Linked DNA regions of Homo sapiens: regions 1 and 3 are each linked to region 2. Evidence: fine-mapped expression QTL. A gene starts in region 2. Each other region holds a variant in brackets. All regions are shown on one strand. Distances are between the middles of the regions.

Region 1 (2,762 bases), 51 kb before region 2:
CATTGCTTCGAGGGAAAATGTCTGGAAGTTTTTGGAGAAGGGACCTGGCTTTCTGTCCAGGTAGGCTCATAAGGTTTATATCCCTGAAGCCTCACAAATATTTATTGAGAGCCTATTACATGACAGCGCTTAGCACAGGCCTGGCCTGAAGTAAACTGGATATAGATATTTGTTCACAGATTGACAAACAGAAAGCCTTACAAGATGCCCTTCCCAGGCGCAAACCCACGTCACCCTCACAAGCAGAAACAGGGAATAGTAAGGATGAGGGACAGATGGTCGCTAGGAAACTGCAGCCTTCCTCCGATCCCTAACCCCAGGGGTAAAAACAGAATGATCGTGAAGGCAGGGAGCGGGGACAGGTGGTCCTGGGCAGCGTGGCTTATGCCCTGCCCATGGAGATGCCTGTGTTGGAGATGGTTGCTTACCCAGGTTTCACACGCCGGACATCAGCACCTTGGCTCAAATTGTTGAAAACAGTCCCCTTCGGTCTATCAGCGCCATCAGAGACATGTTGGACGTGACACCTTTGTGAGCTTTGTACACCTCAATATTCATCAAATGAAGGCCCGAAGAAATGGATGTCAGTATTAGCAAGATTCTTTCGCCCAGAGCTTCGTGGCGTTGGTATCTCCTTGGCTGGTCTTGCCTCCCAGCTGCATGCTCTGTAAATGTTTGTAGTGAGCGTGAGACACTACAGCTCTCTGTCTCTCTGCCTTAAGCCCACTCTATTTTTATACTATTTGGTATTATCTTTGCTGGCTGTTTTTTCTCTGCCACAATCAGAATTCTTGGGGCTCGGTGCCGACGGGAGGGGTTTTAAGTGTCTTTGGCAGGAAGAATTTCTTCTGTCTGTAGTTCAATCTGAAGTTCATTCACATTCTCCTTGCAAAGAATGGCGGATGCAGTGAGAGTTGCCGTAAAAGCGATGAAAAAGTCATCGGCAATCCTTACCACATCCGTACATCGGCAGCTCGGAGGCTTGACTGCTGGAGCGAGATGTGGCCCAAGACGCCCCGGTGGAGGCTAGGGTCCTCATGGTGCCATTTGCCCCAACTCCCAGGAGGGGCAGGGAGACGATTTCCTCTCAACTTCCCAGGCGGCTTTAGGATGTCAACTTGGGTCTTGGCCTGGAGCCCTTTGGATTCTTTCATGTTTTTCTTGACTTGCTAAGTGTGCTTTCCATCAGTTGGATACGGAATGCATCAAAACAATCATTATTATTTCAACCACAGCCTCCTCTGAAAGCGCTTTTTCTTGGATATAACACCTCTGTCTCAAGGCAGTTATTGCCATTCCAATGTGTTATGCTGTGATTTCATCCTCAGAGGGAGCTGCCACACTCAGAAAGCAAACAGACTCTTCCCACATCTCGGCATAGAGCAACCCTGTCCTTCCAGTTTGTTCTTCGGGCCACACATCTATGAGCCAGGACAGATGCATCTCTTTCTCCCACACTCCACATTCCATCCATTGGGAAATGCTGCCGGCTCTGCTTCAAACTGCCCAGAATCCCACATCATTCTTCCCCATTTCAAGTGCTTTTCTCCGGCTCCAGCTGGGACTCCTGCCCCATCCTGACCCTGGCAGCCCATGCTCAGCATGGCAGCCAGGGTGAGCCACTCACAGCTCAAACCGTTCAGA[C/A]CTCCTCCTTTTCCCAGAACGAGAATTGGGTCTTCGCCATGGCCTCAGGGCCCCTTGCAATGTGGCCTGAGTGACCGCTCTGACCACCCCTTCCCCAGCTGCCCGCCCTACCCACCCCACAGCAGCCCCACTGGCTGCCTTGCCCTATGATCAAATAACCCAGGCAGTCCCCTGCCTCGGGACCTTTGCACTGGCTGTTCCTTCTGCCTGGAAGGCTTGTCCCACAGAGACCTGCATGGCTGATGGCTGACTCCATTACTGCCTTGAGATTCTTATTTCAAGGCATAAGGCAGCATTGTGCAGAGGATAAGAGCACAGACTGGAGCCCCACTGCCTGGCCTCAAGGGCCTTTGCTGACATTTACTGACCACCTGACACTGCAAATGGTATTTCACCTCTCCCTACCTCAGTTTTCTTCTCTGTAAAATGGGGAAATAATCACATTAATTCATACTGTTATAATGAGGATTCAATGATTTAATATTTGTAAAGGACTTATAGCCAGAATGAATGTGAAATAAGCGACTACCAAAGGAATAAATCAAATGAGCTGACATCAGGCACCCTATTTAAACATGCTGGCCAGGGCCAGGCGTGGTGGCTCATGCCTGTAATCCCAGCACTTTGGGAGGCCAAGGTGGGTGGATCACTCGAGGTCAGGAGTTCGAGACCATCCTGGCCAACATGGTGAAACCTCGTCTCTACTAAAAATACAAATATTAGCTGGGCTTGGTGGCACATGCCTGTAGTCCCAGCTACTTGGGAGGTTGAGGCAGCAGAATCGCTTGGGCCCGGGAGGCAGAGGTTGCAGTGAACTGGGATGGCACCACTGCACTCCAGCCTGGGTGATAGAGCGAGACTCTGTCTCAAAAAGAAAAGAAAAGAAAAGAAAGACAAACATGCCACTGGCTTCTCACCTCCATCCTACACTCCCAGTCTTTCTCCTCTCCTGTGCTTTTGCTTGTATTTCATTGTATGTATCCCTTCTTACTACATAATTTACTTATTTCTTTTGGTTGCTATTTACTGTCTCCCCCAACCAGAATTGCTAGAATACAAGCTCCATGAGGACAGAAATCTGTGTTTTGCTCACTATGGTACCTACATGCTTACACAGT
Region 2 (2,762 bases):
CCCAGCACCAGCCCCCAGACCTGTTCACTCTTTGGCCTTCCAGGGCCAGCCCCAGGCTGGGCTGTCACTGATGTGGGTGAGCAGGAGTGGTCCCCGTTCCTCACAGGGGCTTCTCTCTATGCACACCTCACATCATCCCCCGACCTCCAGGCATAAACCAGCCTTGCAGCCCTGACTCCAGACCTGTCCAGAGAAAGTGCCACCTGCCTGGGGAGCTGATGCAGATGAGAGGGAAGGAGAGAGAGACAGTGTCCCCTGCACCATGCCCTGAACTTCCCAAGGGACCTTCATCAAGCTCCCCTGGGGGCTGTATTGTTAAAATGCACAGATTCTTGGACCTCGACTCTGGACTTCCAGAAGCGAAATCTCTGCGGGGGTGGAGGAATTGGGCACTGATTCTAATGAAGTCCCCAGGGCAATCTCACCTGCTTTAGAGCAGAGGTTGGTACCCTGGCTGCACATCAGAGTCTCATGGGAAATCTAAACACATCCGTTCCAGGGCCTCACCCCCAGACCAAGCAGACCAGTGTCAGGGCTGGACATCAGGCATTCGTATTTTGTAAAAAATGATTAAAATGTGCACCCAGGGTTGAGAACTGCTTCAGAATTTGCAGACCTCCAGCTGGGTCTGACCCAGGAAAACAGGAAACAAGAGAGATGGTGTCAGCTGGGGCCCTTCACTGGTGGGGCCAGGTGGGTGGGGGGAACATCCCCACGATCCAGGCGACCCCCACCGCTGGCCAGGCAACCTCATGGCTGAAGGCGAGGAGGGACGCAGGCACGAGGGCCTTGGCGTAAGGAAGCTGGCTCTGCAGTCAGGCCCTGCCCTGGGGCTGTTCAGATGCCCAGGAGGGCAGGTTTATGCGAATGAAGCAATTACAGAACCATTTAAAAGAGTGAGGGAACTTGGTCCAGAAATGCCTGTGGAGCTTTCAAAAGGGGTGAGTGACCTCATCCAGCCAAGAAAGGGTCTGGGAGAGAAGCTGGAGGCCGAGGTCTTCAGTCTAGGCTAGGGGAGGGGAGAGAACGTTTAAGAGGGTGGCAGGCATTCCTGTCCCAAGTCACCAACTGGGTAGCGCTCTTGTTTGTCTTATGCAAGAGTGTTTAGATAAGAACAGGCTTTTGCATTTCAAAAAGGAGCCTGTTCTTCCTCGCCTTGCTTCTTCCTGTGCTGAGTAAACGGAAGGCACACCCTTGTTTCCCTCCCTATTCACAGCTCCTCTGTCCGCCACAAAGACAACCTCCTCCCCTTCTGCCCTCGTCTTCTGCCTGTGGACATTCAAGGGACCCCGCTCCTCCTTCATCCTTTCTCTCCTGCACGAATGAATCGTTTCCCGTGAATCTGCTCTTTGAAAAACCCCTTCCTAACTTCCATCTCTCTTCCTCTGCTCTCTTTGATGCCATCGCTTCTTAAAAGGGAGGCCTAGACTCACTGCTGTCTCACTTTTGTACGTTTATTTTCATCATGGTAAAATATACATAGCATAATATTTACCATTTGAGCCCTTTTAAGGTGTACAATTCAGTGGCATTTACATTCAAAACATTGTGCAACCATCCTGATGATCTATTTCCAGAGCTTTTTTTTTTTTTTTTAAATCATCCCAAACAAATTCTGGAACTGTGAGATAATAATGTCCCATTCTTTTCTCCTCCCAGTTCCTGGTAACCTCCATTCTTTCTGTCTCTATGAATTTGCCTATTGTAGAAACCTCGTGTAAGTGACATCATTCCATATGGGGCCTTTGTGTCTGGCTTATTTCACCTAACATCATGTTGCAGCAAGGTTCATTTCATTTCTTTTTATGGCTGAATAATATTCCCTCGTACAGATGGACAGCAGGTGTTGACCTATTCATCGGTTGTCTATTCGGCCTCCACAATCCACTGTTTTCATCCCTTCTTGCTGTCTCTACTTCTATGACCCTGGCCTAAGTCACCATTTTCTTCCACCAGAGTGCTCAGTGGCCTCCTCTGAGATTTCACTCTTTTTTTTTTCTTTTAAACAGCGTTATTGAAATGTAATTCATATATTATGTAATTCTCCCATTTAAAGTGGACAATTCAGGCTACTCTGCCTATGGAGTGGCCATGCTTTTGTTTCTTTACTTCTCTAATAAGCTTGCTTTCACTTAAAAAAAAAAAGTATACAATTCAATGGTTGCTAGTATATTCCATGTAGCTGCAATCGTCACCGTGGTCCATTTTACAGCATTTGTATCACCTCAAAAAGAAGCTCTGACCCTTCAGCTATCTCCCCTCCCCAACGCTCACCCTTACAGCCCTAGGCAACTAGTAATCTACTTTCTGTCTCTAGAGATTTGCCTCTTCTGGGCATTTTGTCTAAATGGAATCATACAATCCGTGGTCTTTTGTGAATGGCTTCCTTCACTTATCGTGATGGTTCCCGGGTTCATTCATGCTGTCCTATCGGCACTTCATTCCTTTCTATGGCCAAATAACTACCTCATTGTATGGATTCATTGGTGGACATTTATGTCGTTTCTATCTTTGGGCTATTACAAATAATGCTGCTTTAAACATTTTGTACAGGTTTCTGTATGAATATATGTTTTCGTTTCTCGTGGGTCTATACAGAGGAGTGGAACTGTGGGTCACACGGTAACTCTGTGTAATCGTTTGAGGACCTGCAGGCCACAGTGGCTGTCCTGCCTCCTCTCTTGCCTCTTTCAAAACTCCTCTTCACAGAGCAGCTGATGCGATCTTTCAAAAATGAACTTCAAATCATGTTTCATCTTTCT
Region 3 (2,762 bases), 99 kb before region 2:
CCATGGGCCAGCAGAACTGTCACCACCTGGAAACCCTGTAGGAAATGCAGAACCTCAGACCGACCCCAGATTTAGGGTATCAGATACCTGCTTTTTCAAAAAATTATTATGAGATAGGGTCTGGCTCTGTCGCCTAGGCTGGAGTGCAGCAGCGTGATCTCGGCTCACTGCAACGTCCACGTCCTGGGCTCAAGCGATTCTCCTGCCTCAGCCTCCTGAGTAGCTGAGACTACAGGTGCATGCCACCATGCCCAGCTAATTTTTTGGATTTTTAGTAGAGACAGGGTCTCACCATGTTGCCCAGGCTGGTGTCAAACTCCTGGCCTCAAGCGATCCTCCATCCTCAGCTTCCCAAAGTTCTGGGATTACAGGCGCAAGCCATCAGGCCTGGCCAGAGTCTGCCTTTTTCTTTTCTTAATTTAATTTTTTTTTGAGATGTATCACTCTGTCACCCAGGCTGGAGTACAGTGGTGCAATCTCAGCTCACCACAACCTCCAATTCTTGGGTTCAAGGGATTCTCCTGCCTCAGCATCCTGAGTAGCTGGGATTACAGGTGTGCACCATCACATCTGGCTAATTCTTTTTGTATTTTTTAATAAGATGACTTACATGCACTGAAATGCTTGAGAAGCACAGTGTTAGTTATCGACCCCAGGGAAGGTTTCAGTTACCCCCATCATACTGAGCTTCTACTGGAGTTCCAACAACTAAGAGAAAGAGCCTCTGACACAAGTCAGCGGGCGAAGCTCTAGACTTCATTTCTAGCACTGTGCTGCCCAATATGGCAGCCATGGGCCATGTGTGGCTATTAAGGTCAAAGGTATAGTAATGGAGATGAAGTACAGTGACACATTTCAGTGCTTCGGTCACACAAGTCGCATTTCAAGTGCTCAGTAGTCACACGTGGTTTGTGGCTGGTATATTGGGCAGCACTGATTACTGAACAATTCCCTTATCACAGAAAATTCTATTGAGCAGTGTTGGTTTAGTGTCTGACAGTGTAGTCATGTGCAGAGAATGACCCAACCCCAGCTTTCCCTGAATGGCGGCTTCTCTCTTTGGTGGCAGGGGCATGGGGGTGTAGGTGGTGGATGGGCAAGTGA[C/T]AGATGTGTGGAAACTCAAAAGTGTGTGATTTGGGTGGGGAAGGGCACTGCAGCCCCAGAAAACAGCTGCATGAGTGAGAACATCTGGTGAAAATCAAGGCTTGAGTTAGTTCATGTGAGACGCACTGGAAGGATGTTAGAGATCACTTAGCTCAAATCTCCCCGTCCCCTTCCTATCACCCATTTAATAAACCAAGACCTAGAAGTCTAAAGAAAAGTGCAGTGGCTAGACTTGAAGTTGGGTTTTGCACTTCAAGACCAGTGTTTGATGTATTCTGCTTGTGGGACAGTGAGACAAACTCTTTGCCTGCAAAGAAGATTTCATGAGGCGAGTAAGAGGTGCTCGAGAAGACATCACATGAGAGAGGGCCATTCAGGAACCCAAGAATTTGCCTATAGACTTGGGGGAAGATGGCCAGAGAAATCTGGGGGAGGCACTGGGAAAGAACATTTCATGGTGGGGGCAGAAGGGGTGGGCAGCAGGGGGAAGGAGGACCTAGGCTGGGAAGGGCCCAGCTCCATCCCTGACCATTCGTCTATTATATGACACCTGCATGGGGCAGAAGCCAGGGAATGTTTCACAGATATGCCTGGTCTCTTCCGCTTTGGTCTGCATTTCTGTGCCTCCCTACCCTCCCCCAGTTAGGTGGGTCCAGGAGACTGAACTCTGACCCATGGAATCTGGGCAGAAGGGTTGCTGCAATTTCCAGGGCTGGGCCCTAAAAGGCTCTCTCTGCCTTCTCTGGTAGCCCACCCAGATGCAGTTGATGCAGTGGAGGACTCTCCAGCCCTAGAAGACTACCGAGATACTAGAAAGGAGGTGCCTTGTCCCCAAAAGACTGGGAGGAGTGGAACATCCCAGCTAGCTCACTTTAGGCTATTACTGCAAGAAATTAAACCTGTATAGTGTTAAACCATAGTACATTTGGGAGATGTTTGTTATAGCAGCTGGTCTACCCTGGCTAATACACTGCATGAAGGGTGCGCTCTAAAATTTCCATCTCTTCACCATGTCCCATAGCATTTGCAAGATGTTTGTAGGTCACTGAAGAGGCCATTCTTTTCTCTTCCCTCCCTCTGTTTCTCTGTTCTCACTTCTTCCTGTCTAGGAGTTCTGTAGTCATCTCTAATTGGCCCTTCAGGTTCCCCAATCCAGAAGCAGTTCCTATGAAGGCAGCCCCAGGTTATTGCCATATTCATGGAGTTATCAGGGTTATGGCAGGTCCTAGGACAGAGGAAGTCCCTGCCCATCACTTCCTCCAGGAAGCCTTCCCTGCATGTTTGGGTTAGGAACCATCCTGTGCATTCCCATAGAATATAGTCAATGATGCCCACATTCTTTGTGGCCTGCTGTACCGTAACATATACGCTCAGTACACAATTGTGGTTTACTTATCTCTCTTGTCACTCCACTGTGGGATCCTAGAGAACTCCATCACTTCTACTGTGAAGCAGCAAGAGCTAGACATGTAGATACCCACTGTGGAAGGCAGCTTCTGATATGGCCTCCAAAGAAGCACCCTCCTGAGATTCATGTCCTTGTGTCATCCTCTCTCCTCCAGTGTGAGCCAGACCCACTGAGTTGCTTCTAATGAACTGAATACAGCAAAAGTGCTAGGAGATTAGGCTTTAAAAGACTGGGTTATAGTCCTTTTTCA

Evidence for each region. PIP is the estimated chance that this variant, and not a neighbour inherited with it, causes the effect.
Region 1: its variant is the best candidate, but not a certain one, in a credible set for the expression of LINC00469 in lung (TOPMed, PIP 0.82).
Region 3: its variant is the best candidate, but not a certain one, in a credible set for the expression of LINC00469 in whole blood (INTERVAL, PIP 0.73).

Annotation. Positions count from the first base shown.
Region 1 is chr17:73,775,770-73,778,531 of GRCh38, forward strand. All of the region lies in intron 2 of LINC00469 (long intergenic non-protein coding RNA 469), which reads right to left. Among named protein-coding and RNA genes, the nearest start is that of LINC02092, 9.7 kb to the right of the region's middle. The variant C/A (reference allele first, on the strand shown) is at 1,645.
Region 2 is chr17:73,826,953-73,829,714 of GRCh38, forward strand. It overlaps LINC00469 (long intergenic non-protein coding RNA 469), which reads right to left and starts at 1,585. Exons shown (of 4, transcript NR_027146.1): 1 at 1,496-1,585. RefSeq lists enhancers at 922-1,431, 2,422-2,762.
Region 3 is chr17:73,728,389-73,731,150 of GRCh38, forward strand. No RefSeq gene overlaps it. Among named protein-coding and RNA genes, the nearest start is that of LINC02092, 57 kb to the right of the region's middle. The variant C/T (reference allele first, on the strand shown) is at 1,105.